Homo sapiens: one gene and its partners. The protein of the gene in region 5 interacts with the protein of the main gene of each other region in a pairwise test. Each region holds a gene or a part of one and is shown on either strand. Other genes may lie near its edges. The genes, in order: PTN, TBC1D4, TRIM37, SPAG5, CDK5RAP2, CLIP4 and EXOC1.

Region 1 (3,500 bases), on a different chromosome or scaffold from region 5:
TCACATGTTGACAATGGCTCATTCTCTGTTTATATCCATTTCTGCTTTGCAGCCTCAATCCAGGCAGGGACAAGGGACATGTGGCCCGGGGTGTTATTTGATGTGTGGTGTATGTGTACTTCCTTCTCTTGATTTGGCTCTGTTCAATGTGAACTAAAGTGCCCTACTGTTCACATCAGGGTAGGAATCCTATTGGCTCTCAGAACCTTCTAGAGTAGCCGCTATATGACTTCAATAAAAAAGCACTTGGCTTTAACTAATTATAGCCCTGCTCCAGGCTAATTTGTGACCCACATCTCATAGTAAACATTTCTCTCTAACCTTGAAAGGCGACTAAACTGGGACAGTTTTACCCACAGAGTTTAATCAGGTCTCTATTCTAAAGACAAAGTTTTAAGAAACCTGGATAAATTTCATATACGTATGTTTGTAAGTTTTCTTCTTCATAAAATATTTGTCTTTAAAGATAGACTGAAATTTGACAAGATTCTAATTGGATTTACACTCCTTACTTTCCTTGAGAAATACTCTTTTCTATATAGTAATGGGTTGAACTATTTCCCATTCAAGTATTCATTTATCCACTCCGCATGCAACAAGTATTTCATGAATGCTTGTTATATCTCAGGCACAGAATATACAGTTGCAACATACAGATAGGGTCTCTATTGTCATAGGAAAGGAAAAACACATACCAAATAATTAGAGACAAAATTAATAGTTCAATTCTAGTTTTGGAAAAATCAATGGGAGGCACAATGAGAGTGTCTGTGCACGGAATCTGCTTATCTGAGAGCTCTTGGAGGGCTTCCCTGAGAAAATGCAGTTGAGGCTAAGATTTTAAGGATGACTAGGTGCTGACTGTGCAAATTGGGGTAGTAGGAGAAGGAACACTCAGGCCAAGAGGAAATAATATGAAAAGGATAAGATGGAAAGAAGCAAAGAAAAGTCAAAGAACCGTCATAAGGAAGATGGGTGAGACATATTATCACCATGTTATGGATCCATTTATTTTCACTAAAGCTTTACTAATCAGCTTTTACACACAAGGCCCTGTGCCATGGGTTGGAGGTACAACAGAGAGTAGAAACTGCACCCTCTCGCAGCTTGTATTTTGGTGGCAGTTACAATGCTAGAGATAGGTGCTCTAACAAGAGCAGGAAAGAGAAACAACTTCTAACTCACACTGCGAGGTCAGCAAACTAGAAGTGATGTCAATGCTGGTACCTGAAGGATGGGAGGCATTAATGAGACATGTCGTAGTGGAAGTGTGGGGTTGATGAAATGAAGAGTGAATTTGAAGGCCAGAGACTAGAGAGAAAAACAGACAAAGAGAAAAGATGTATTTGGGGAACTAAAATAAGCATAAGTATGAAGATGGAAGTAAAGAGGGGCAATGTGAATGTTTCAGTTTCTTCATCTATTACGTAAGGGCGTTGGACCACGTTCTTTCTAGGTCATAGATTTTGTGATACTATTTTAAACCCATCATGTATACTAGGTAAAGATTGAGAGGTTGTTAATAAGTTTTTGAGGCCACAGAGATAAGCAGTGACAAAGCTCATTTAGTCTTTCAGTTGAATGTACATAAAAGTCACAAAAAACTGCTTTCGATTGGAAGCAATATTACTGACCTGATTTTTTTTCACAAAAATTTGAACACTTTGTTATGTAAAAAACTAAACTGACCTTATTGCAAATATGAATTCTTCCCTCCTTCCACTACTTTTTACTGAAGACTCTTTATTTTTCTCTTTAGATTGAGCCCAGAGTAGACTCAAGTTCTGCAGGGTGTCCGGACAGTACCATGATTACTTGCCACTTGTGTCAGAAGAATAAGTTGATTGACATTGTACAGATTTAATAAGCAAATTGTTGATTTCCTGGTATTTAGCAAGTTGTCAATTAAGGAATAAGACACCAATGTCAGGTTCAGGGTTACCTAAGAATGTGCTCTTGCCTTTACCAAGAAGAATTTGGTGACAGATTCCTATTCCCAAAGTGTTCTTTGAAATGGACAACCTTACATTAACAGATCAAATAGTGTCCAATGTTCAGAATAATTTTAAGTTTTATGAAACTTTTATACAAAAACCTGGTTAGTATGTCATCTGCTCAGACTTATGTATGAAATAGGAACATGTTAGCCAAAATATGAAAATTGCTACTTAGATATCCACTCTACTGGAGACCTAGAAGATAACAAGTTCCTGAGGGTTTTCCAGGAAGGGACATGAGGAAACTGAGAGAGGGAAAACCAGAGTTAGGTCTCAGTTGAAATCCTACATTGTTCTCTGAAGATACCATCCTAATATACAGCTGTTGCCTAAAATGTTGACCAAAAATTGGGAATTATTACATTTTCAGACACTGAATAATTTTTCGGAAATTACACATAATGTCTCCTTTGATCTAAAATGTATCTTTCACTTGGAAATTCTGGTCATTACACCTCTCATAGGGTGAAAGAAAGATATTTGAGAAAACAAACAAAAATAGAGAGCGTGAAAAGTTAAATTTCTTTAGTATAGAAATGGGGCAAACTTGGGAAGTCATGAATGGAATGAATACAATTATGGACAACAATTTAGCCTGGGTTTAGAAACTGCTGACCCACTTGCATATAGTGTACCCTTGAAGTTTGAGTAAAGGAAGATTAGGACAATTACATTGAACAGAAATACTACTAGTGTGTAATGGACTTTGGAACCTACTTGAAGAGGTCATGAAGATAGTATATAGAAATGGAAAAGTTTCCAGCTCTACTTAAGTATGAGCTGAGAAATATACAATATTTCTAGTTGGCATCATATCATATCTTCTGTCTTCATAAGTCTTATGGTCCTCTTGGACACAGGCTGTATGCTCCAGTGAACAATGACCTCATCCCTGTTGGTCATTGTTTTTGTCCCAGTGACCCTATGTTGCTTAGCACATTCATTGACCTGCTCAATCAATATGCCTTGATAATGATTAAGGATTTTAATTATACAGGGTAATGATCTCTTGTTCTTGCTCTATTATCACCCTAATGATAAATGCTAACCTTAATTGAGCACATGCTATTGTATCATGTTCTGTTCTCAGTAGATTTTATAGAACAGGTTTAATTTGGATATAAACCGTATGCTTACTATCATATGCTATGGTACTTTTCATATGCCTATTTAAAGATGAGTAATCTAAGAAACAAATACATTAAGTAACTTTCTCAGTGTCTCACAGTAACTTAATGATGTGGCCAGGATTTAAACTTCAGCAGTCTGACTCCAGAGCCTGTACTTAACCAGTATATTTCTGCCACTACTATGGACCAAATTGGAGAAGTGGCTCAGAAATATTTAGCAATATCCCCTCACTTGCTAACCCAGTGATTCTGACCATTTTTGTCTTTGGAGCCAAATTAGATGTGTTCTATTCTACATTGCATTCTCCTGTTAGGAAAAGAGAAGTGGAAAGATGGTTGAATGGAAAAGAATGGAGTCTTTTGATTGAAATCC
Region 2 (4,154 bases), on a different chromosome or scaffold from region 5:
GGGATCTGTGTAACAGAGTTTCTGGGAAGGTTCTAGAAGGTCTCAGTCTACCTTCCAAGAACTTTTCATTGCTTCTTTGAAGACATGGGTCTTTTTGAACAAAGGTTTTTTAAGTGGTTCAACCAAATGACTTAACCTAATCAATTAGTAATGTCTCCATCTTGGAACTTAGATACCTATTAATAAGAGAGCCATCAGAGTGCAACCAGAAATTCAGCATAAGAACAATGGCAGTTGGTTATATTGATCTTAAATAAATAGAAGGGAAAAAGTGGTCCCAGGGCTTTATAAAAAGTGAGAACTCATTAAACTAAAAACCAAGAAACCCGAGTTTTCATTCTTCTTGTAAGCACTTAGGAGAAAGTCAGGAACTTCTGTGTCTTTCTTATTTATTTTGTCTTTACTTCTTACCCAATTCTTAATTATCATTCGGTATGAGTAAAAAGGGAGAATACTTGTCTACCTGTCTTAAAATTACAATGATCAAATTATTCCAAACTTTTTTTTAGTTCTTTGGAAATATGTATTACCACATATATATAAAAGAACAAGAAATCTCTACATTAGCTCTCAACTGGGGATATAACATAAATAAAACATAACTTTTCCATATTTTAAGAAGTTGGCTGCTTTAATAACTAGGAAGATTCAAGCTGTCGATATTATGTTTTAAAGTGAAATTTGGAACTGGAATTTATAATATTGTGATTGAAAACACGAGCGTTTTTTGAGATTATTAGGAAAGATAATTCAGAAATTAATGTGTAGGCTTTAGAAGGAACTGAAACCAAGCAAATACTGTTAAAAAAAAATCCCAGTTCTCCACTGCGAGTGGCCCCCTCTCTAGGGGGCAGCAGAGACGCCCGGGAGGAGACGGAGATCGCGGCGACTCAAGAGAGGCCAAGTGGGTCCGGGCAGTGCCCGCGCCAGGCTCTGAGCTGCAGCCCCAAGGGCGGGGGTCGAAGGAAGAGGCGAAGAGGCGGAGAGGCGGCTTCACGGATAAGCTTTTGCAGGCGACGCTCTCCGCCCGCCGGACGGGAGGCGGAGTAGCAGCCCGATTAAAGAAGCAGCCTGGAAGGAAGGAAGGAAGGAGCGAGGGAGGGACGGGAACGGCAGGAGGAGGAGCAGCGAGCTGGGCTGCAGCTGCGGCGGGAGGAGGAGCGGCCCCCGCGAGGCCACGTTTTGTTTTTGTTATTTTCCACTGGAGTAGTTGCCGGAGCCTTTCCTGAGGACTGACCGCGCCGCAGCCCTGCAGCCCCGACCTTCCAGGTGACAGCCGGTCACCCTGGTAGGAGTCAGCTCCGCCCCAAGTCACCCCCTCCCGCCCACAGCCCCATTCCCCGCCCAGCCACCCAGTGTCTGCCCCAGGCGAGCGCGGCGGCCGCAGCGGGGCTGCAGCGCTGGAGCCGGCGGCCGCGGGGACCCTCGGCGTGGTCCTCTGACCCTGCAAACCCGCGACGGAGGAAGGGGAGGTCCTGCCCGAGGCGCCAGCCCAAGGAGGAGGATGCCCATTTAACCCGCCCTCGCCTGCCGGGCGCTTGCCTCGGTGCCCGCCGCCGGAGCCTCCGAGCCGCGCCCGTGGAAGTGCTGCATGGGGCAGGGCTGCTGAAGCGCGGAGTTCGGGGTCGCGCCGCTCCCAGGCAGGCGCGGGAGCCCGGTGCGGCAGTTGGCACAGTTTCGGCGGCGCCTTCTGCGCGGGAGTGGGGGGCGCGGTGCGCCCGGCCGGCCTCCGCGGTGCCCTGGTGAGGCGAGAGTTATGGAGCCGCCCAGCTGCATTCAGGATGAGCCGTTCCCGCACCCCCTGGAGCCCGAGCCGGGCGTCTCAGCTCAGCCCGGCCCCGGGAAGCCAAGCGATAAGCGGTTCCGGCTGTGGTACGTTGGGGGGTCGTGCCTGGACCACAGGACCACGCTGCCTATGCTGCCCTGGCTCATGGCCGAGATCCGCAGGCGCAGCCAGAAGCCCGAGGCGGGCGGCTGCGGGGCGCCGGCGGCCCGAGAGGTGATCCTGGTGCTCAGCGCGCCCTTCCTGCGTTGCGTCCCCGCGCCGGGCGCTGGGGCCTCGGGGGGCACTAGTCCGTCGGCCACGCAGCCCAACCCGGCGGTATTCATCTTCGAGCACAAGGCGCAGCATATCTCGCGCTTCATCCACAACAGCCACGACCTCACCTACTTTGCCTACCTGATCAAGGCGCAGCCCGACGACCCCGAGTCGCAGATGGCCTGCCACGTTTTCCGCGCCACAGACCCCAGCCAGGCAAGACAGGGGCTCGGAGGCGCGGGGGCGGGCTCGGCCTTGGGGGATCGGGGAGCAGGGCGGGAGGGGCGGGGACCCCACTTTAAGGACCGACTGAGGTTTGGCTGCAGGCGCGCGCGCTCCACGTGGCGCGCTCAAGCGCCGGCTGGCCCCTTCCCTGGACCTTGGGAGTGGGAGAGAAGGCGTTCGGGGGCTGGGCGAGCGGCGGGAGCGGCCGGCCGGCTACAGCAGGGACCCGGAGGGAAAAGGACAACGGTCCCGGGATGGAGGGGGAGCTGGCGCGTCCAAGGAGCACGCGTGGAGGAGCGCCCGTCCCGGGAGGACGGCGGTGTCTGGGGTGTGACCGGAGATGGCTTGCTTGCCGTGTGTGTGTGTGTGTGTGTGTGTGTGTGCGTGCGTGTGCGCGCGAGCGCGTGTATGAACGCAGAAGGTTGGGTTCCTAGAGGTCCTCACTAGTTCTCAATCGCAGTCAAATCCTTAACCGGTTTGGCTGGTCGCGTCATCTTCGCAGCAGCACCTGCAGGTCTCCGGTCTGGGAGGCAATTTCCGAGCGGGGCTTAGGGAAAAGTTACTAGACATCGTCAGATTGTCTGCAAAGAAGGATTCTACATTTGGATATTGAATGGAAAGAAGCCCTTTTTTTGCGGTTTTTAAACACACTTATTGGAGGCAGTGTAGTAGAACAGGTTTCTAATATCATTTTTTAAATGTTTTTTTCACTTTTGTTTTTAATATTTTTTTTCCAGAGTCTTCTAAATCTAATTACCAAACAGTAAACTTTACTTCCTTAAAAACAGATATGGTCCTTATGGAACAGGGAGAGGAGAACTTGACTATGCAGTGATTGTGTCTTTGAAAACAGAGTTTTCCCCCTTTAATTTGTAATGAGTTTTCTCCCCGCCATATCAAAAGCTTCCAAAATGCTGTTTTAAAAATGGTTATTTACTGTTTGCACAGTACTTTAGGTTCTTTGGAAAAATAGTGTTGTCTAAATATAAATAAAGTCTCAGGTTGCACCATGTGGCTTTCTTTTGGTAACTGGGAAATTAATCGTAGTCAGATGAGAAAAACATCCTATAAATATGGCTTTAATTTTTTTTATTTCACAATTCTTCTGTCTGTAATTGAAAGACTTAGTTCAACAGTTTTCACAAAAGGCTTGTAGTTGAATTGAAGAAAATAATAGTTCATTGTCTTAGATTTCATCAGTTACTTTGAAAAATAGGTTTTTTTTTTTTGAGACGGAGTCTTGCTCTGTCGCCCAGGCTGGAGCGCAGTGGTGCGATCTCGGCTCACTGCAACCTCCACCTTCCGGGTTCAAGTGATTCTCGTGCCTCAGCCTCCCCAGTAGCTGGCATTACAGGCACCCAACAATCAGAACTCCTAATGTGAAGTTATGTTTATGGCATAACTGTTATGTTTATGGCAAAATATCGTACTAAAATTATTTCAAGATCCTAACCACGATTTAATGAATTTCATTTTGTGAACATTTGTTCAAAACTTATTTTTAGCTTTCACATATGTTAAAATTGGAAAGTTTCTGAAAGCTATTACATTTTATTGTATTACATTTTTCTGGTTCTGGTGGTAAAGAGGAGCCAGTTGCATTTTTCCAGGACTTTAAGGAACTTTTCATGACTCTCGGGGGTTTCTGTTAAAGTTATTTCCCCCCAGCGACATCTGATGCATGACACATTGTTGCTAATCTCATTGATGGTCCTGGCACCTTTAGTTCTCAACAGCTGCTGTTGAGTTCCTCTTGGTCTCATTGGTAGGAAGTCAATTATAAACATTCCTTTATTTTCCTCCATTATATATTTAAGCGTTAGAGGCTGAACTATATAAATATTAATATGTTTAGGCTCACTTCCCCCTTTTAGTCCAGTGGGAGCAGTGG
Region 3 (3,500 bases), on a different chromosome or scaffold from region 5:
CAATTTGTTTATGCATTCACCTGTTGATGGGCATATGGCATGTTTACAGTTTTTGCTATTACAGTGAAAATTGCTGCGAACATTCGTGTACAAGAAGCTTTCTTTTCTCTTGGGTAAATAATTAGTAATGGAACGGATAGAGATTATGTGGTAGATGTGTGTTTAACATTTTGAAAATTGCCAAGCTATTTTCTAAAATACTTGTATCTGGGAGCTAAACAATGAGCATACATGGACATAAAGGGGGAAATGCTAGACACTGGGGACTTCAAAAGAGGGAGAGGAGGAGAGGGATGAAGGTTAAATTAAAAAAAGGATTGGGAGGCCGAAGTGGATGGATCACCTGAATTCGGGAGTTCGAGACCAGCTTGACCAACATGGAGAACTCTGTCTCTACCAAAAATACAAAATTAGCCAGGCCTGGTGGTACATGTCTGTAATCCCAGCTCCTTGGGAGCCTGAGGCAGGAGAATCACTTGAATCCAGAAGGCGGAGGTTGTGGTGAGCCGAGATCGCACCATTGCACTCCAGCCTGGGCAACAAGAGCGAAACTCTGTCTCAAAAAGAAAAAAAAGGAAATAGTTTTATAATTTTACATTCTCACCAGAAGTTTATGAGAGTTCCAATTCCTCCACATTAATGCTAACAGTTGGTGTGTTCGGTTTTGTGAATTTTAGCCATTCTCAGGGACGTGTAGCCATTCTTACAGGTATCTCCTTGTTTTAGTTAGCGTTTCTCTGTTGAGTAATGATGTTAGCATCTTTTCCAGGAGTTATTTACCATCCATATGTTGTCTTTGGTAAGGGGTCTGTTCAGTGCCCCCCATTTTGTGCTAAAATAAATATAACAAAATTTTCCATTTTACCCATATTTAAGGGTACAGTTCGGTGTCTTTAATTACATTCATAATGTTATACAACCATATCACTATTTCCAAAATCTTTCATCACCCCAAACAGAAAGTCTGTACCCATTAAAAAAAAAGAAAAAAGAAAATAAACATAAGTAAACATAGAAAAGGTATATTAAAAATACAGTATAAAAGATAAAAAATGGTACACCTATGTAGGGCAGCTCCATTCTAATCTTACGAGACTACTGTAGTATATGCGGTCCATCATTTACCGAAACATCTTTATGTGACACATGGCTATATACCACTTTTTGTTTATCCTTTTTCTTAAGTTTTTTTGTTTTTTGAGACAGAGCCTCGCTCTGTCGCCAGGCTGGAGTGCAATCGTGCGATCTCGGCTCACCACACCCTCCACCTCCGAGGTTCAAGCGAGTCTGCTGCCTCAGCCTCCCGAGTAGCTGGGACTACAGGTGTGCGCCAGTACACCCAGCTAATTTTTGTATTTTTAGTAGAGATGGGGTTTCACCATGTTGGCCAGGATGGTGTCGATCTCTTGACCTGGTGATCCACCCTCCTTGGCCTCCCAAAGTGCTGGGATTACAGGCGTTGAGCCACCGCGCCTAGCCTATTTATCCATTTTTATCTCTTGATGGACACTTGGGTTGTTTTCACTTTTTGGATATTGGATATTGTTAATAGTTCTGTTGTTAACAATTATCTGTTTGAGTTCCTGCTTTCATTTCTTTTGAATATATATCTAGAAGTGAAATTGCTGGGTCATATGGTATTCTGTTAATTTTTTTTTAATTGTGGTAAAATATACCTAATGTAAAATTAGCCTTTTTTTTTTTTTTTTTTTAAATGAGACAGTGTCTCACTCTGTTGCCCACGTTGGAGCACAGTGACACAATCATGGCTCACTGCAGCCTCAATCTCTTGGGCTCAAGCAGTTGGCCTGCTTCACACTCTTGAGTAGCTGGGACCACAAGTGTGTGCCATCGTGCCTGGCTAATTTTTTTATTTTTTGTAGAGACAGGGTTTTACTTTGTTGCCAAAGCTGGCCTCAAACTCCTGGGCTCAAGTGATCTGCCTGCCTTGGCCTCCCAAGTGCTAGGATTACAGATGTGAGCCACTTGGCCCAGCCAAATTTGCAATTTTAACTGTATTTTTAAGTGTACTGTTTAGCGGCATTAAGTACATTCACATTGTTGTGCAGCCATCACCACTATCCACCTTTAGTACTTTTTCATCATCCCAAACTGAAACTCTGTACTTGATAAACAATAAATTCTCATTATTCTCTTCCCCCTAGCCCCTGTTAACCACTATTCTACCTTCTGTCTTTACATTGACTATTCTAAGTACATCATATAAATGGAATCATAAAATATTTTTGTTTATTTCTACCTCTCTATTCTGTTCTATTAGTCTCTATTTCTGTTCTTATGGTAGTACCACACTGTTTTGATTACTGTAGCTTTGTAGTAAGTTTTGAAATTAGGAAGTGTGAGTCCTCCAACTTTTTCAAGATAGTTTTGACTATTTGGCATCCCTTGAGATTCCATGTGAATTTTAAATGCAGTTTTCTACCAATATAAAAAGTACCATTGGAGTTTTAGTAGGGATTACATTGATTCTGTACATGCCTTTGAGTAATATTGCTGTCTTAACAATATTAAATCTTATGATCCTTGAACATGGGTGTCTTTCCATTTATTTAGGACTTCTTTAACTTCTTTGAGCAGTGTATTGTAGTTTTGCACGTATAAGTCTTTCTTTTTGTTTTTTATTGTTTTGAGACAGGATCTCACTGTCACCCAGGCTGGAGTGCAGTGATGCGATCATGGCTCACTGCAGCCTCAACTTCCTGGGTTCAAGAGACCCTCTTGTCTTGGCCTCCCAATGCTGGGATTATAGGTGTGAGCCACCACACTCAGCCTCCATGTATGTCTTTCAAATTCTTGGTTTTTTTTTTCCCTAAGCATTTTATTCCTTTTGATGCTGTTGCAAATGTGTTATTTTCTTAATTTCGTTTTTAGATTGTTCATTGCAAGCTTATAGAAATGCCAGTGTTTTTTGTGTGTTTGTCTCCTGTAACTGTTGTGTTTATTAGCTTTAACAATATTTTGTGGACTCTTTAGGGATTTTTACAGATAAGATCATGTCATCTGCAAAAAGATAATTTCACTTCTTTTTTAATTAGGATACTTTTTATTTCTTTATCTTGCCTAAGTACTCTGGCTGGAATTTTTAGTACCTGTATTATGTCAAATAGAAATGGTAAAAGCTGGCATCCTTGTCTTTTTCCTGATCTTAAGGGGAATTTTTCCTGATCTTAAGGGGAAGAGTTTTTAGCCTTTGAATCGTTGACTATGATTTTTATGAGTTTTTATATATGGCCTTTATCAAGTTGAGGAAGTTCCCTTCTATTTCTATTGAGTATTTTTATCATGAAAGGATATTGGATTTTGTCAGATGCCTTTTCTGCATCAATTGAGATGATCATAGTGGGGGTTTTCCATGAAGTGGTTTATTACATTGAATGATTTTTGTAGTTGAATCATCTTTCTATTCTAGGAATAAATCCCACTTGGCCACAGTGTATAATTTTTTAAATAGTCTGTTGAATTAGTTTTATTGGGATTTT
Region 4 (3,500 bases), on a different chromosome or scaffold from region 5:
ACCCAGGCTGGAGTGCAGTGGTGCCATCTAGGGTCACTGCAACCTCCGCCTCCCAGGTTCATGCAATTCTCTTGCCTCAGCCTCCTGAGTAGCTGGGATTACAGGCATGTATCACTACGCCCAGGTAATTTTTGTATTTTTAGTAGAGACAGGGTTTCACCATGTTGGGGGTCAGGCTGGTCTTGAACTCCTGACCTCGTGATCTGCCTGCCTCAGCCTCCCAAAGTGCTGGGATTACGGGCGTGAGCCACCGCGCCCGGCCTAATTTTTTTTTTTTGAGACAGGATCTCACTCCTTCATCCAGGCTAGAGTGCAGTGGTGTGATCTCGGCTCACTGCAACCTCTGCTTCCCGGGTTCAAGCAATTCTCCTGCTTCAGCCTCCCCAGTAGCTGGGATTACAGGCGCGTGCCACCATGCCTGGCTAATTTTTTGTATTTTTAGTAGAGGCGGGGTTTCACCACATTGGCCAGGCTGGTCTCAAACTCTTGACCTCAAGTGATCCACCCTCCTTGGCCTCCCAAAGTGCTGGGATTACAGGCGTGGGCCACTGCACCTGGCCTGTTTTGTAAATTTTTGATTATTAATAGATATTAATTGTTTGAAGCATTTGAATATATAAATGTATAAGGAAGAAATATTTCTGGTATCTTAGATAAATGTCATATTTGACAGTTCTTTCATACATCTCTTTATGTGTGTCTATTTTGTATATATGCACACACACACACACACACTCATCTTTATATTGTCTTTTTTTTTTTTTTTTTGAGAAGGAGTCTTGTTGTATCGCCCAGATTGGAGTGCAGTGCCGCGATCTTGGCTCACTGCAACCTCTGCTTCCCAGATTCAAGCGATTCTCCTGCCTCAGCCTCCCGAGTAGCTGGGACTACAGGCACCCGCCACCATGCCCAGCTAATTTTTGTATTTTGAGTAGAGATGGGGTTTCACCATGTTGGCCCAGCTGCACTCGAACTCCTGACCTTGTGATCTGACCGCCTCAGCCTCCCAAAGTGCTGGGATTACAGGTGTAAGCCACCATGCCCTGTCTTTTTTATTTTTTTTTTTGAGACAGGGTCTTGCTCTGTTACCCAGGCTAGAGTGCAGTGGTGTGATCTTGGCTTATTGCAACCTTGAACTCCTGAGCTCTAGCAGTCCTCCCACCTCAGCCTCCTGAATAGCTGGGACTACAGGTGTGAGCCATCATACCTTTTAATAATTTCAAAATTAAAGTAAGATACATGAAATTACAATAAAACATAACAGCATAACAAATTACTATAAAGTACACATCCATGTAACTAATACCCAGGTCAGTAAGTAGGACAGTACCAGAATATCAGAAGCCCTTTTTAACCTAACCTTGGTTTTGTTTCATCCACTAATATAAATGAGAAATTTCATATGTTTGATTATTATTATTATTATTTTTTGAGACGGAGTCTCGCTCTGTTGCCCAGGCTGGAGTGCAGTGTCACGATCTTGGCTCACTGCAAGCTCCACCTCCCGGGTTCACGCCATTCTCCTGCCTCAGCCTCCCAAATAGCTGGGACTACAGGTGCCCGCCACCACAGCCAGCTAATTTTTTGTATTTTTAGTAGAGACGGGGTTTCATCGTGTTAGCCAGGATGGTCTCGATCTCCTGACCTCGTGATCCGCCCGCCTCAGCCTCCCAAAGTGCTGGGATTACAGGCGTGAGCCACTGCGCCCGGTCTGTTTGATTATTTTTTTAATAAATAATTGGACTTTCTATCTAAAGCTTCCAGAATAGTTTTTTCTTCATTGTAGCACAGAAATTTTATAATTATGTGTCTAGCATGTATCTTTTCTAGTCAGTCCTGCTTAGAAACTGGTGAGCCATTTTAATGTGCAAACTCAGGTCTTTCATTAGGGTAGTTTTCTTCTAATATTTGTTAATCAGCGCCTCATGTATATATGTTCTCTTCTGGAATTTCTTTTATTTAACTGTTAGGTATCCTGGGTTTATCTTCTAATTCTCTTAGCTTTTTCTTCAGATTTACATTTCTTTATATTTTTATCTTTGCTTTAAGATATTTCTTCCACTTGTCCAGGCCAGTAATTCTAGTTTCAACTCTAATAATTTACTCTTTCAATTCATTTTACTGACATTTTTTATTTAAAATAATATTTATTATTTCTAAAATGTCTTTGTGTGTGTATTTATGTTGTAGTTAAAGCTTAAGTACTCGTTTTTTTTGTTGTTGTTCAGATTATCATCTGTGTCTTCCAGCAGCTCTGTTTTGTTAGGGTCTACCTTTTTTATTTATTTATTTATTTTTTTTTGAGACAGGGTTTTGCTCTGTCACCCAGGCTGGAGTGCAGTGGCACGATTTTGGCTCACTGCAACCTCTGCCCCCTGAGCTTCAGTGATCCTCCCACCTCAGCTTCCTGAGTAGCTGGGACTACAGGCACACATCAGCACCACCATGCCCGGCTAATGTTTGTATTTTTAGTAGAGATGAGGTTTGAACTCAAGCGATCCACCTGCTTGTGGCCTCCCAAATGCTGAGATTACAGGCGTGAGCCACTGCGCCCAGCCGAGAGGGAGAAGAACTTGTACCAACTCTAGATTCTGACAGAGCTTAAGCCTTCACTCACACCCTATGGACCCCTCCTATCTGTTCATCTAGAAGTGCGTTAGAGTTCAGAATGGAGATGAGTGGGGTCACTTTCAAGCTACCATCTGCCCACGATATGGATCTATATTCTCAGCCTGTTTATAATGTAGGCTGGTTCACTTGGAAGGACCCAAAATGGCTTAGCAGCTTTTCTTTCCCTACTATTGGGTCTCTATATGAGCAACAAAGATTAGCCAAGTTCTTACCTAAGCAGAGGTAGTAAGAATTCTTTTCTTTTTTGAGTGCACTATCTTGCACCTGTAATTGTATGTCGGGAACTGAATTGACTGCCTTAGACAACTACTTTTGTTTCCTTTGGCAGGAAGGCAGCAACAACTCATCTCCAGTGGATTTTGTAAATAACAAGAGGACAGACTTATCTTCAGAACATTTCAGTCATTCCTCAAAGTGGCTAGAAACTTGTCAGCATGAATCAGATGAGCAGCCTCTAGATCCAATTCCCCAAATTAGCTCTACTCCTAAAACGTCTGAGGAAGCAGTAGACCCACTGGGCAATTATATGGTTAAAACCATCGTCCTTGTACCATCTCCACTGGGGCAGCAACAAGACATGATATTTGAGGCCCGTTTAGATACCATGGCAGAGACAAACAGCATATCTTTAAATGGACCTTTGAGAACAGACGATCTGGTGAGAGAGGAGGTGGCACCCTGCATGGGAGACAGGTTTTCAGAAGTTGCTGCTGTATCTGAGAAACCTATCTTTCAGGAATCTCCGTCCCATCTCTTAGAGGAGTCTCCACCAAATCCCTGTTCTGAACAACTACATTGCTCCAAGGAAAGCCTGAGCAGTAGAACTGAGGCTGTGCGTGAGGACTTAGTACCTTCTGAAAGTAACGCCT
Region 5 (3,500 bases):
CTGAATGTAGCTCTCCCTCACCAGACTGCACGTTTCTTCACAGCAGAGATGTGGCCTTTCATTTTCACATTCTCGGCGTCTAGTACAGAACCTAACCCAGACCAGAAGTCAGTGCCAGTGTGAGAAATATTGAGAGATTCTGTGAAGCAACAGTAAAGAGTGGTAATTCTGAATATCCACAACACGTGACAGTCTTCTCATTTCCATGTCTAATGGCTTCCAGGAGATGCCCTGACATCCCCTTTAGTGAGGTGTTTCACTCACTCACAACACTGCCAGGAAATATTTCCTTATAGCTAGTAATAGCTAAACCCTTAGAGATGCAGTCAAACTTGTTTCAGAAGTGGAGTAGTACAGCAGAAAGAATATGAAGTTTGAAGGCCACACAGCCTGAGGCAAGTGACTTTACTATCCAAGAGCCTCAGTTTCCCCTGTGTCTAAAATGTAGAAAGAGATGTCTCATATGGTTGTAGTGCAGCTTCTGTTCTTAACCACTGTGCCACACTGCTGGCTGCCCAGGGAAAGTTCCGTTCAATATAGAGAGCTGTCTGAATACTTAAGGGGCAGCGGAATGTAGTAGAAAAACCTGTCTTTGAAATTCAACAGACATGGTTTCAAACTCTGGCTCTGTCACATAGGCAAGTTACTTGACCTCTCTGAGCTTTAGTAGCTTTATCTGTAAAATGGAAAGAACATCACTGAAAAGTTGTGTGTGTGTGTTTGTTTTTAGGGATTATATGGAACAAAATCTGCAAAAAGAAAAAAAAGGCTAGCACAGTGTCTGGCACATAGTAGTGAAGGAATCCAAGTAACACAAACATCCTCTAACCATTCCAAGATAGAAGGAGATGCCCTTCACCGGAGGCGTGCGTGCGAAGGCCAGCCTGGAAAAATGCTACAAAAGCAACAACGTGGGTTGGACTGGGTGACCTAGGAGATCTCTCAGAAAGAAATTCACACACAAATCCTCATCAGACTGCATGTCCCAATTTCTGGTTCTGCAATCTGCTCCTTGTGACTTGAGGTACACTCTTGTATCTGTTCATGATGCAAATACCATAAAGTATGGCATTTCATTTCAGAAAGCAGCTGCTACCTGACCTAAAGGAAGCATTCCTAATACAGTATTTTTATTATACACAATGTTATGATAATTACTCAATAAGAGCCTTGAGGGTGCAGACCGTGTCATCCATGTCTGTTTCTCCAGTATCTAGCACAGGGTCTGCGACAGAGAATGTACTCACCAAGTATTTCTGGCTGAACAAGAAAGAGAAAGAGGAACTGGGGAGGGAGATATCTCTCCATAAGGCTTTTTTTCCAGTGAATCACCCTCCAAGACAAGAAAATATCTTTGCTGTAATAACCTCATGATAATAGAATTTGGTCTGTACTTCATGGCAAGAAGCGTGTTCACTCATGGAAATAAAGATTAGTTCCCAGGACTTTCCTTAAGTAATTATGAGGCATCACTAGTACCCCCATTTTACAGAAGAGGAAGTTGAGGCTTAGGGAGCTTAAGAATTTGCTTAGGGTTCAGGGTAGGTAAGCAGTAGAGCCCCTCCTCAAAGCCTGGCAGTCTGCCTCTAACACTCTGAATGATGCTTCCCGAAGTAACACTCCTGCAATCCAATCTCCTGTACCGCGGTGCATGAGCAAAGAGAGAGAGAGTTCTTAACCCTCAATGTGAAGGCCAAGATGCCTGTAAAATCCTTTATTCACATCCCAAGTATCTGTCAAGGGCCTTGTGAAAAAGAAACAGCAATGAAGATGTCACACGCAGCACCCAGCCTCAGCTGCGCAACAATTAAAAGGTGGAAGTTCAGGCAGATGCAATTCACATACAAAGTTCTGGAAGCACATTCAGAAAAATGAAAGACATTCAGTAATGAAGGGAAGTACTGACAGGGAAAGGGAAGCTGTCGATTAGTTAAGAAGTCTGTATTAATAACTATCAAGAAGAAATCAAAAGATGTCCCCAAGACCATTTATGAATATTTGCATTATAAGAAATACTATAGTTCTACAACTTTCCACAATTCAGCTAAGGGGGACTTTATTGCCTGGTAGAGTAGCTTTCTCCTCAAAGCCCAGAACACGCAGAAGCATGTGACCATGTGTTCACTGCAGTGACTCTGGACCTTGCAAAAGTATACAACAGTGTATATACCACAACTCAGTATTTTTCCAGAGACTGGTGTCCCCATGGCCATCCCATGACAAATTTAGGATTCTTGAGGACAATTATTTCTAACAGAGTGAATTAGATCTGGATTAATAGTGATTTTTTTTAATGAAGGGGGAAAAATATCTAACATAAAAAGAATGTAGGCATTTGTTCATTCTGGTTGAATGAGAACATGAGTATTTGTTATATTATCTTTTGTGCTTATGTATGCTTCTAATACTTCATAATTTTAAAAAGAAAGGAATACAACTTGCCTCTGCCCTCACCCGTATCTCTGCACCTTTTCCACTGATCTGCCTGGCAAACCCCACAAACCCAGTCTCAGCCTCAGGCTCTCTTCTGACCCACTCCTCCTGGGCACACGGACCAACACCAAGCACACCTCAGCAACAGGCAGCCCCGCGCTGAATACTAACAGGCTGTTGGGATGATTGTCTCCTCCGAGCTGTGGGGTCCCTAAGAGCAGGCTGTGTCTTTTCATGTTGAACCACCAGAACCCAGCCCACTGCCTGGTAGAGAAGCATGCTGACACATGGACGGGTGGGTTCTGACATCCTACTGTACCTTGACTCTTCTCCTACTTACCAGCTGGGTGACCCTGGGTCAATTATTTCTTAAAACCTCAGCTTCCCATGTGTTAGACTGGAATGATAATAATGCCCTGAGAGGGCTGCTATGGGCTTAGTAATAATTTTTAGATAAAACATCCAAATGGTGCCTGGCACATGGAAGCTGTTCAATACACACAGGGGCTGAATTCTGACCAATCTCGTAGCTTCTTTGCTGATCACTGTCCATTTCCTTGTCTCTCCAGACAGAAGATGTGGTTTTAATTCCTTTCTGCTCTCCTGGGCTGTCCTGGTAGGCTGCTCCCACAGGGGGCTGAGCTACAGGCAATCACAAAGAGAAAGAAAAATAAATAAAACCGTAAGACCTGAAACTTAGCCAAGCAACTGAGAAGAACACAAAGATACAACAGGGAAAATAAAAACACTGGGGAGGCAAAATGCAATTTATAAGATAAAATTAATCTATCGAGCTGCCATAACAGGACATAAAAAGCATAAATATACTGCAGCTTGTCTGAAATGGTTTAAGTCCAGGCTCTCAAAAAGCTGAGTGAGAAAATGAATTCTATCAATTCGTGCCCATTTTTCCCAAGAAGAGAGAGGCCCTAGGGTCTCCTGGGCAACTGTTTGAGGTAGCACCTGGAGTTGAGGCACTCTGGTGTCTCAGCAAAAAATAAAAACAGTATTGAGTGCAAATGGCAAGCTAGGAGCCAGCATGGTGGCTCATGCCTATAATCCCAGCA
Region 6 (3,500 bases), on a different chromosome or scaffold from region 5:
TGAGTAGGGTGAAATTCCTATAGAAATCAGAGTTTGGGGAATTTGATTCTAGCTATTGTTAGTATCAGAGGCACCTGTTCTGTAGACAGTTGATTAGTGCCAATTTTTTTTTTTTTTTTTTGAGATGGAGTTTCGCTCTTCTTGCCCAGGCTGGACTGCAGTGGCGGGATCTCGGCTTACCGCAATCTCTGCCTCCCAGGTTCAAGCGATTCTTCTGCCTCAGCCTCCTGAGTAGCTGGGATTACAGGTGCCCTCCACCATGCCCAGCGAATTTTTTGTATTTTTAGTAGAGATGGGGTTTTGCCATGTTGGTCAGGCTGGTCTCGAATGCCTGACCTTGGGTGATCCACCTGCCATGGCCTCCGAAAGTGCTGGGATTACAGGTGTGAGCCACCATGCCTGGCAGGGCCAATATATATATATATATTTTTAACCTGAGGCTTACTTTATAATCAGTTATCACCAGTTAACCATAGTTGGATTTGGAATGAAAGTGTGTACTCAGTTCAGATCAGTATACTTAGACATTTGACCAAGAGTCCAGGTGTTGTAGGTCTTCAGATCCAGGAATTGCTTTTAGGAAATGAATCTGAGACTATAAGGAAGTTTATAGGGGTACATAGTTTCCTTTGGGAGGACAAAAGGTAGAATGTTAAGTTTTTCACGAAAATAAGGAAATGTAACTAGAGAAAAACGCAACAAAGACAAAATACAAAGAATGTTCACTGCATTGGTCAGGTAATATTGTAGCTTCTTCTGGACTTGAAGTATCTAATATGTAAAAGAATGAAGCTGGTTACATCTGATTGCATGAATCCTCTTTCCACTTTGAATCTAAGCTTTGAATATTAGTTAAATATGTGTAACACACTATTCTAGCTCCTGTGGTGACTGCTAGTTGTGTACGATAGAGTTCGTATCTTTGAGGATCTCAACAGTTTACAAGGAAATGAAAGGTGCTCTGGGGATCACTTAAAATTTTTTTTTTTGAATGGGAGACTCCACCCTTTGAAAGGGAAGTCATGTGGTGACTCCTCTTAACCGACTCAGACAGATATCCACTGAATCTTTTTGCTGAAGAATTAAGAGTATAAAAACATGTCTGAGTCCCAAACCGTGATTATAGTCAGATTAATTTTCCTAAAACAGCTTTAATCATGTTACTCTCTTTAAAAAAATCAGTAGTTTCCCAGTGCTCATGAAAGTAAGTGGTTTGGTCTTTGATGAGGTATTTGCTCCTCAGTACAGCCCTAAAAAGCCCTTACAGCCTCACCTCTGACTGTTTTCCTAGTCATATCCCAAGTTCCAGCCTACTGTTCTTTTAATGGGATCCCCTTTTATATTGATACCTATTCATCATTCAAGACTCATCACAGATGATACCTTCTTCACCATTTATGATTCTTAGAAGCTCCAACTGCAAATGTTCCTGGTACTTATGTGATGGAGCAGATCCCATTCTGCCTCATAATCTATAGTTATTAGTGGTATTTTATTCACCTTAATAGATTGTAAACTACCTAAGAAGCATGGACCATCTGTTAACTCATTTTTGTATTTGCTGAAACATCTAGAATAGTGTCTTGTATATAGTGGTTCCTTAATAAATACTCATTACTGTTTGGAATTGATAGTATTTGAGGAAGATCACCGCTGCTCTATAACACTAATTCCATGAACTTGTCATTTTCCTATTTATGTGGCAAGGTTAATGTCAAAATGCTTCTAAGTATTTGGTGGTAAGTAATTTTAGCATCCAAGAAAATGTGAATACCTTAAAATAGTAACAACTGGATTAGGTTACCTAATATATAACATCTATATCCATATAAGCATACGATTTTTGAGGAAAAAGAAAGCCTCCTACTTTTTACCAGTTCCTGCCAGTATTAAGAAAACATGAATCAAGTTAGGAAGACAACAGTGAGCTCAATGAAATGACTGTTTTATTGTAGTGGGGAACTGATGGTAAGGATAATTGAGTTAGATATAGGGTTGGTTAAGTAGAACAGAGCACACATTAAGTAGTAGCTAGTATGGTGTTGTCTACTACCAGATCAAGCCATTGATTACCTATTTTTATTCTGTGCTTTCTACTGAAATAATCTAAACTCATTTTTCATTTAGTTTTATAATGTTTTGCTTACATTTTAAAAACAGGAATTCATGATACTTCAGATAGTAAAGATCGGATACAAAAGAAACTGGAAGGCTTTTAGCTTCATAAGTTTGGTTTTACTAGCAGTTTCTCTGCTTTCTACATCATTTCTGAGATGTAGGCTAGGGTGTAGTACAAAGTCTAATTTAGAGCAAATTTATTCTAAGCACTCATGTTTTCTGGGAAAAAGAGGTAATATAAGCCATGTGCTTTAAAAGGCATGGCTTCCATCTTTGGCCAGGATAGAACTCACATACCTCGGACCTTGTTAAGTTGAACAATCTTAGTAAACTCTTAGATTTGTAAGAGGGATATGATTAATTTTCAGTAAAGTTTTCTGGGATAGAAAATAATGGAAACATTTTAAGGTAGATTATCTTCATGTGATGAGCACATGGCATGAGCTATTGGATGACAAATGATGTAACTTGTGCCAGTGTTATGGGAAGTTAAAGATCCATCTACAAGGGTTAATACGCCCTTGTTTGTTACATGAGTAGGAGGATTTCACCCATTTAGATTAGCTCAGCATTTAAAGTGTTTTCACCTATTTTATATTCCTTTTGAGCTTTGTCTAGAGAGATTACATGTGCTACCGACTGGTATAAGAGGTGGTGTGAAGCAATGTATGCCTTTTAACAACAGTTTTGCCAAAAGGAATTTTTTCCCTTTCATAAAAGATCCTTACTGAAAATGTCAGCAGATTTGACGTCAAATAACTTTTAGGCAGTTATTGAAGGCAGTCATTCTAAGTTGCATACAAATAAAGTAGAAACACTTTTTTTTTCTTTCTTATTATAGGTGGCTTTCTAGAAGATGACCATAGAGGACCTTCCAGATTTTCCATTAGAAGGAAATCCTTTGTTTGGAAGATACCCATTTATATTTTCTGCTTCTGATACCCCAGTTATCTTTTCCATTTCTGCAGCACCAATGCCTTCAGACTGTGGTATGTGAAGTAGCTGTGCTTATTTTCTGTGAACTGGTAACTTGACTTCTCTGTTACGCCTTTTTTGCACTCATAGTCTTTCTTAGAACCATTTTTATGGTTTTCATAAAATTGCTAAAGTTTTCCTTTTTCAAAAATACAATTGCTTATTGCTTTTTCTGCTTCTTAAGCTAAATGCTTTATTTCTGCTGTCAGCATTTATATTATGTTAAAATGTTCATTTTAAGCATCATGATGGATTTAGAGGACTTTATTTTTAGAAAGCAATGGTGCTTAGATATCTAGCATTCTTCTGCTATTGATGTATTTATTTTGGTTAAATATACTGACTTGCTAAAAAAGCCATGTACTTAGGCAAAGAGGGTAAGAGACCCTTCCCTGGAATGTGAAATG
Region 7 (3,500 bases), on a different chromosome or scaffold from region 5:
TGTCTTATTTTTGATAAGATCTTATCTCTCATTTATGAACACTGGTCAATAAGATCAATAGACAGCATTTATAAATGAGTGCTTACTGTGTACCAGGCACAAGTCTGGGCACTTTGCACACATTATGTCATCTAATCTTAAACCCAGCCCCTCAATAAGGTAGATTGTTTGAGAGGTGAAGTTACTTTCCCCAGGTCCACAGTTAAAAAATATGGATCTTGTATTCAAACCCAGAAAGTCTGGTTCTAGTACCTGCAATCTTACCACTACCTTTTCTACTGCATCTGTTTTTCACCTCACAGTTACCAATACTGATGAAGTAGAACATTAGTACAGATAATATGAAATAACTGACTATACTCTTAGGGTTTTCTTATACTAATGTCAGAAGCCTAGAGATAATTATTTTTCTAATCCATGTGTCATATGGTTTTTGAGTTATACTCCCCAAATCTCAACACAATGAAATGTTAGGTAGAAGCTGAAATAATACAAAAGTATTTGGCAGTGTAATCATTCCTACTGAGTAGATTTAGATCCCTTCAGAATCATAGAACCATAATTGAATCCGTGGATCGTTTTGAACCTAAGATTCTGTCTGCATGAAACATTTCTTTCGCATTTTGTCATATAATGCACAAGCAGTTTGTGGAACTAAGGCTAAGTGACTAATAAATATATGGAAAATTAAATAATGCAAATCCATATGGAAATGCCTATCCTCCCTCTTTGTTTCTGTACTCTGAAAATAGAGAGTTTGTCTATCCAGACAGAAATTTTAGACTGACGAAAATTGGAAATGACTGTGGTTCTCAAACTTGACCACGTGGCCACCAACCAGAAGTTACCCGGAGGGATCCTATAGGTGCTCTGGAATCTTCTCTCCTGTAACCTAAAATCAGTAATTGCCTTGTACTCATCTTTCATAAATGGTAGAAATGTGTGTTGACTGTTTTTACTTTGTACAGAGACTTGAAGTTCACGGCCTTGATTGTATTTTGTTTTGTTTCATTTTATTTTTTGAGACAGTCTTGCTCTGTCACCCAGGCTGGAGTGCAGTGGCGCAATCTTGGCTCACTGCAACCTCTGCCTCCCAGGTTCAAGCAATTCTCATTCCTCAGCCTCCCAAGTAGCTGGGATTACAGGCATGCACGACCCCACCCAGCTAATTTTTTTTTGTATTTTTTGTAGAGACGAAAATGGCCAGGCTGGTCTTGAACTCTTGGCCTCAAGCGATCCACCCACCTTGGCCTCCCAAAGTGCTGGGATTACAGGCATGAGCCACCGTCCCCAGCTTATAGATGGTTTTAAATAATCTGTATTATTTTGATTTTCTTAAACTTACTGTAAAATGGTTTTATTATCTATAGAATTAGTTTTTCTTAGTTATCCTTGTTTTGATTCATCTTCAATTAGTAAGCATCCAAAGTGTTCTAGGTACCACATAATATCCTGCCTCTATGATATCTATGTATATATCTATATCTCCATCTATATATTTTGTTATGATTATATGTAGTTTTAAAGTTGCTTGGTTATTTATCTCCCTTGCTCTCTGCCTAACTTTAGAGTAACCAAATAAGGCAAATGGAAGAAGTAAAGATCTCAAAAAAGAGTAAAGTTGGAATTCTTCCATTTGTTGCTGAATTTGAAGAATTTGCTGGACTTGCAGAATCAATCTTCAAAAATGCTGAGCGTCGTGGAGACCTGGATAAAGCATACACCAAACTTATCAGAGGAGTATTTGTTAATGGTAAGCTTTTGTTATGTTCTAAAGAATTGTTATAGCTATTGTTTTTATTTCTGGTAACTAAGAAATCGGGAGCAGATAGGTTCATTATTTTGTATATCTTATAATCTTTTTTAGGTTTTCTAACATTAAAGATTTCTTGAATTTGGAAAATAAAACCTATTTGTATTCATTATGAACCACTTACATTTTAGGGTTTATGTGGGCTTATGACTATGCAAAATTGAAAATCTTTTTTTTTTTTTTTTAAGATGGGCCTCACTCTGTCGCCCAGGCTGGAGTGCGGTGGCATGATCTTGGCTCACTGCAACCTCCACCTCCCAGGCTCAAAAGATCCTCCTACCTCACCCTCCCAAGTAGCTGGGACTACAGGTGCACCCTACCATGCCCTGCTAATTTTTTGTAGAAAATCATTTTTTAAACACAAAAACATGACCTTCCAGATTACATTTGCATTTTAACAAGTGGTCTTCTAGAGATGATGGGCTGTGATGTGTGTGTAACCTTAAGCAAATCAATTCACTTATTTAGGACTCAGTTTTTCATATCTACTATACAAGGAAATTAGTACTAAAATACAAGAGAAATTAGTGCTGAAATACTGTAATTCGCTTTCTTCCTGTGTCAGATCCCACAATTAAGTTACAGAAAAGTCTGGACATGTCATTTCATCTGAAATAAATGATCTGATTGCATATATTCAGGAATTGTAAAAGCTAAAAAATTGATAGAAAATGGAATCATCTCACCAATTGTTGCCCAGGTTGGAGTGCGGTGGCATAATCTCGGCTCGCTGCAACCTTCACCTCCCGAGTTCAAGCAATTCTGCTGCCTCAGCCTCCTAAGTAGCTGGGATTATAGGCAGGCATCATCACGCCTGGCTAATTTTTGTATTTTTAATAGAGACAGGGTTTCACCATGTTGGCCAGACTTGTCTCAAACTCTTGACCTCAAGTGATCTGCCCGCCTTGGCCTCCCAAAGTGCTGGGATTACAGGCATGAGCCACCGTGTCCAGCCTTGATTTTTTCTTTTAAAATTCAAAGTAGCTTTGCTTTATCTGATTCTAAAGTAATGTGGCTAGGCACAGTGGCCCACACCTGTAATCGCAGCACTTTGGAAGGACCAGTTGGGGGATCGCTTGAGCCCAGGAGTTCAAGACCAGCCTGGGCATCATAGTGAGGCCTTGTCTGTACAAAAAAAATTTAAAAAATTAGCCAGACGTGGTGGTGTGTCCCTGAGTTTCAGCTACACAGGAGGCTGAGGCAGGAGAATCATTTGAGCTCAGGAGGTCAAGGCTGCAGTGAGCCTTGTTCATGCTACTGCACTCTAGCCTGGATGACAAAGCCAGACCCTGTCTTAAAAATAAATAATAAATGAATGAATGAATTCATTATTCGTTCTTTATAAATCTTTATAAACTAAAACTTATAAAACTTAAGAACAGACAGATATTCCTTTAATTGGATAAAAAATCTATCTCAGGCCTAAAGGTTACATGATACTTAACTGCAACAGTAGAGATATTCCCTCTGAAATGAATTTAAAGCAGAAGTATTGTTAGATCCTTTATTATTTAGCATTGTTATTGAAGTGCTAGCCAGTACAAGACCTGAAACATAAATAACTATTTATCCCCAAAAATCAGCGAATAGAATTTTCAAATCAAGAAGAAAGTAAAGATCATTTTTAATCTTGTTGTACAGAGATAATGTTAAATTTTTATTCTTCCAAACTTTTAAATTCCCTGTC

Evidence for each region.
Region 1: the proteins of CDK5RAP2 (region 5) and PTN interact in a two-hybrid assay, tested with the Homo sapiens proteins (one large-scale study listed by BioGRID and IntAct).
Region 2: the proteins of CDK5RAP2 (region 5) and TBC1D4 interact in a two-hybrid assay, tested with the Homo sapiens proteins (one large-scale study listed by IntAct).
Region 3: the proteins of CDK5RAP2 (region 5) and TRIM37 interact in a two-hybrid assay, tested with the Homo sapiens proteins (one large-scale study listed by BioGRID and IntAct).
Region 4: the proteins of CDK5RAP2 (region 5) and SPAG5 interact in binary tests that used the Homo sapiens proteins (3 or more experiments, as listed by UniProt).
Region 6: the proteins of CDK5RAP2 (region 5) and CLIP4 interact in a two-hybrid assay, tested with the Homo sapiens proteins (one large-scale study listed by BioGRID and IntAct).
Region 7: the proteins of CDK5RAP2 (region 5) and EXOC1 interact in a two-hybrid assay, tested with the Homo sapiens proteins (one large-scale study listed by IntAct).

Annotation. Positions count from the first base shown.
Region 1 is NC_000007.14:137,228,734-137,232,233, reverse strand, and holds part of PTN (pleiotrophin isoform 1 precursor), read left to right. Parts: intron 1-3,500.
Region 2 is NC_000013.11:75,479,370-75,483,523, reverse strand, and holds the start of TBC1D4 (TBC1 domain family member 4), read left to right. Parts: upstream 1-1,354; 5' UTR 1,355-1,756; coding exon 1,757-2,254; intron 2,255-4,154.
Region 3 is NC_000017.11:59,096,881-59,100,380, reverse strand, and holds part of TRIM37 (E3 ubiquitin-protein ligase TRIM37), read left to right. Parts: intron 1-3,500. UniProt on the Homo sapiens protein: E3 ubiquitin-protein ligase required to prevent centriole reduplication. Probably acts by ubiquitinating positive regulators of centriole reduplication.
Region 4 is NC_000017.11:28,592,526-28,596,025, reverse strand, and holds part of SPAG5 (sperm-associated antigen 5), read left to right. Parts: intron 1-2,959; coding exon 2,960-3,500. UniProt on the Homo sapiens protein: Essential component of the mitotic spindle required for normal chromosome segregation and progression into anaphase. Required for chromosome alignment, normal timing of sister chromatid segregation, and maintenance of spindle pole architecture.
Region 5 is NC_000009.12:120,440,668-120,444,167, forward strand, and holds part of CDK5RAP2 (CDK5 regulatory subunit-associated protein 2), read right to left. Parts: intron 3,076-3,500; coding exon 2,953-3,075; intron 1-2,952. UniProt on the Homo sapiens protein: Potential regulator of CDK5 activity via its interaction with CDK5R1. Negative regulator of centriole disengagement (licensing) which maintains centriole engagement and cohesion. Involved in regulation of mitotic spindle orientation.
Region 6 is NC_000002.12:29,118,415-29,121,914, forward strand, and holds part of CLIP4 (CAP-Gly domain-containing linker protein 4), read left to right. Parts: intron 1-2,959; 5' UTR 2,960-2,974; coding exon 2,975-3,107; intron 3,108-3,500.
Region 7 is NC_000004.12:55,895,148-55,898,647, forward strand, and holds part of EXOC1 (exocyst complex component 1), read left to right. Parts: intron 1-1,569; coding exon 1,570-1,753; intron 1,754-3,500.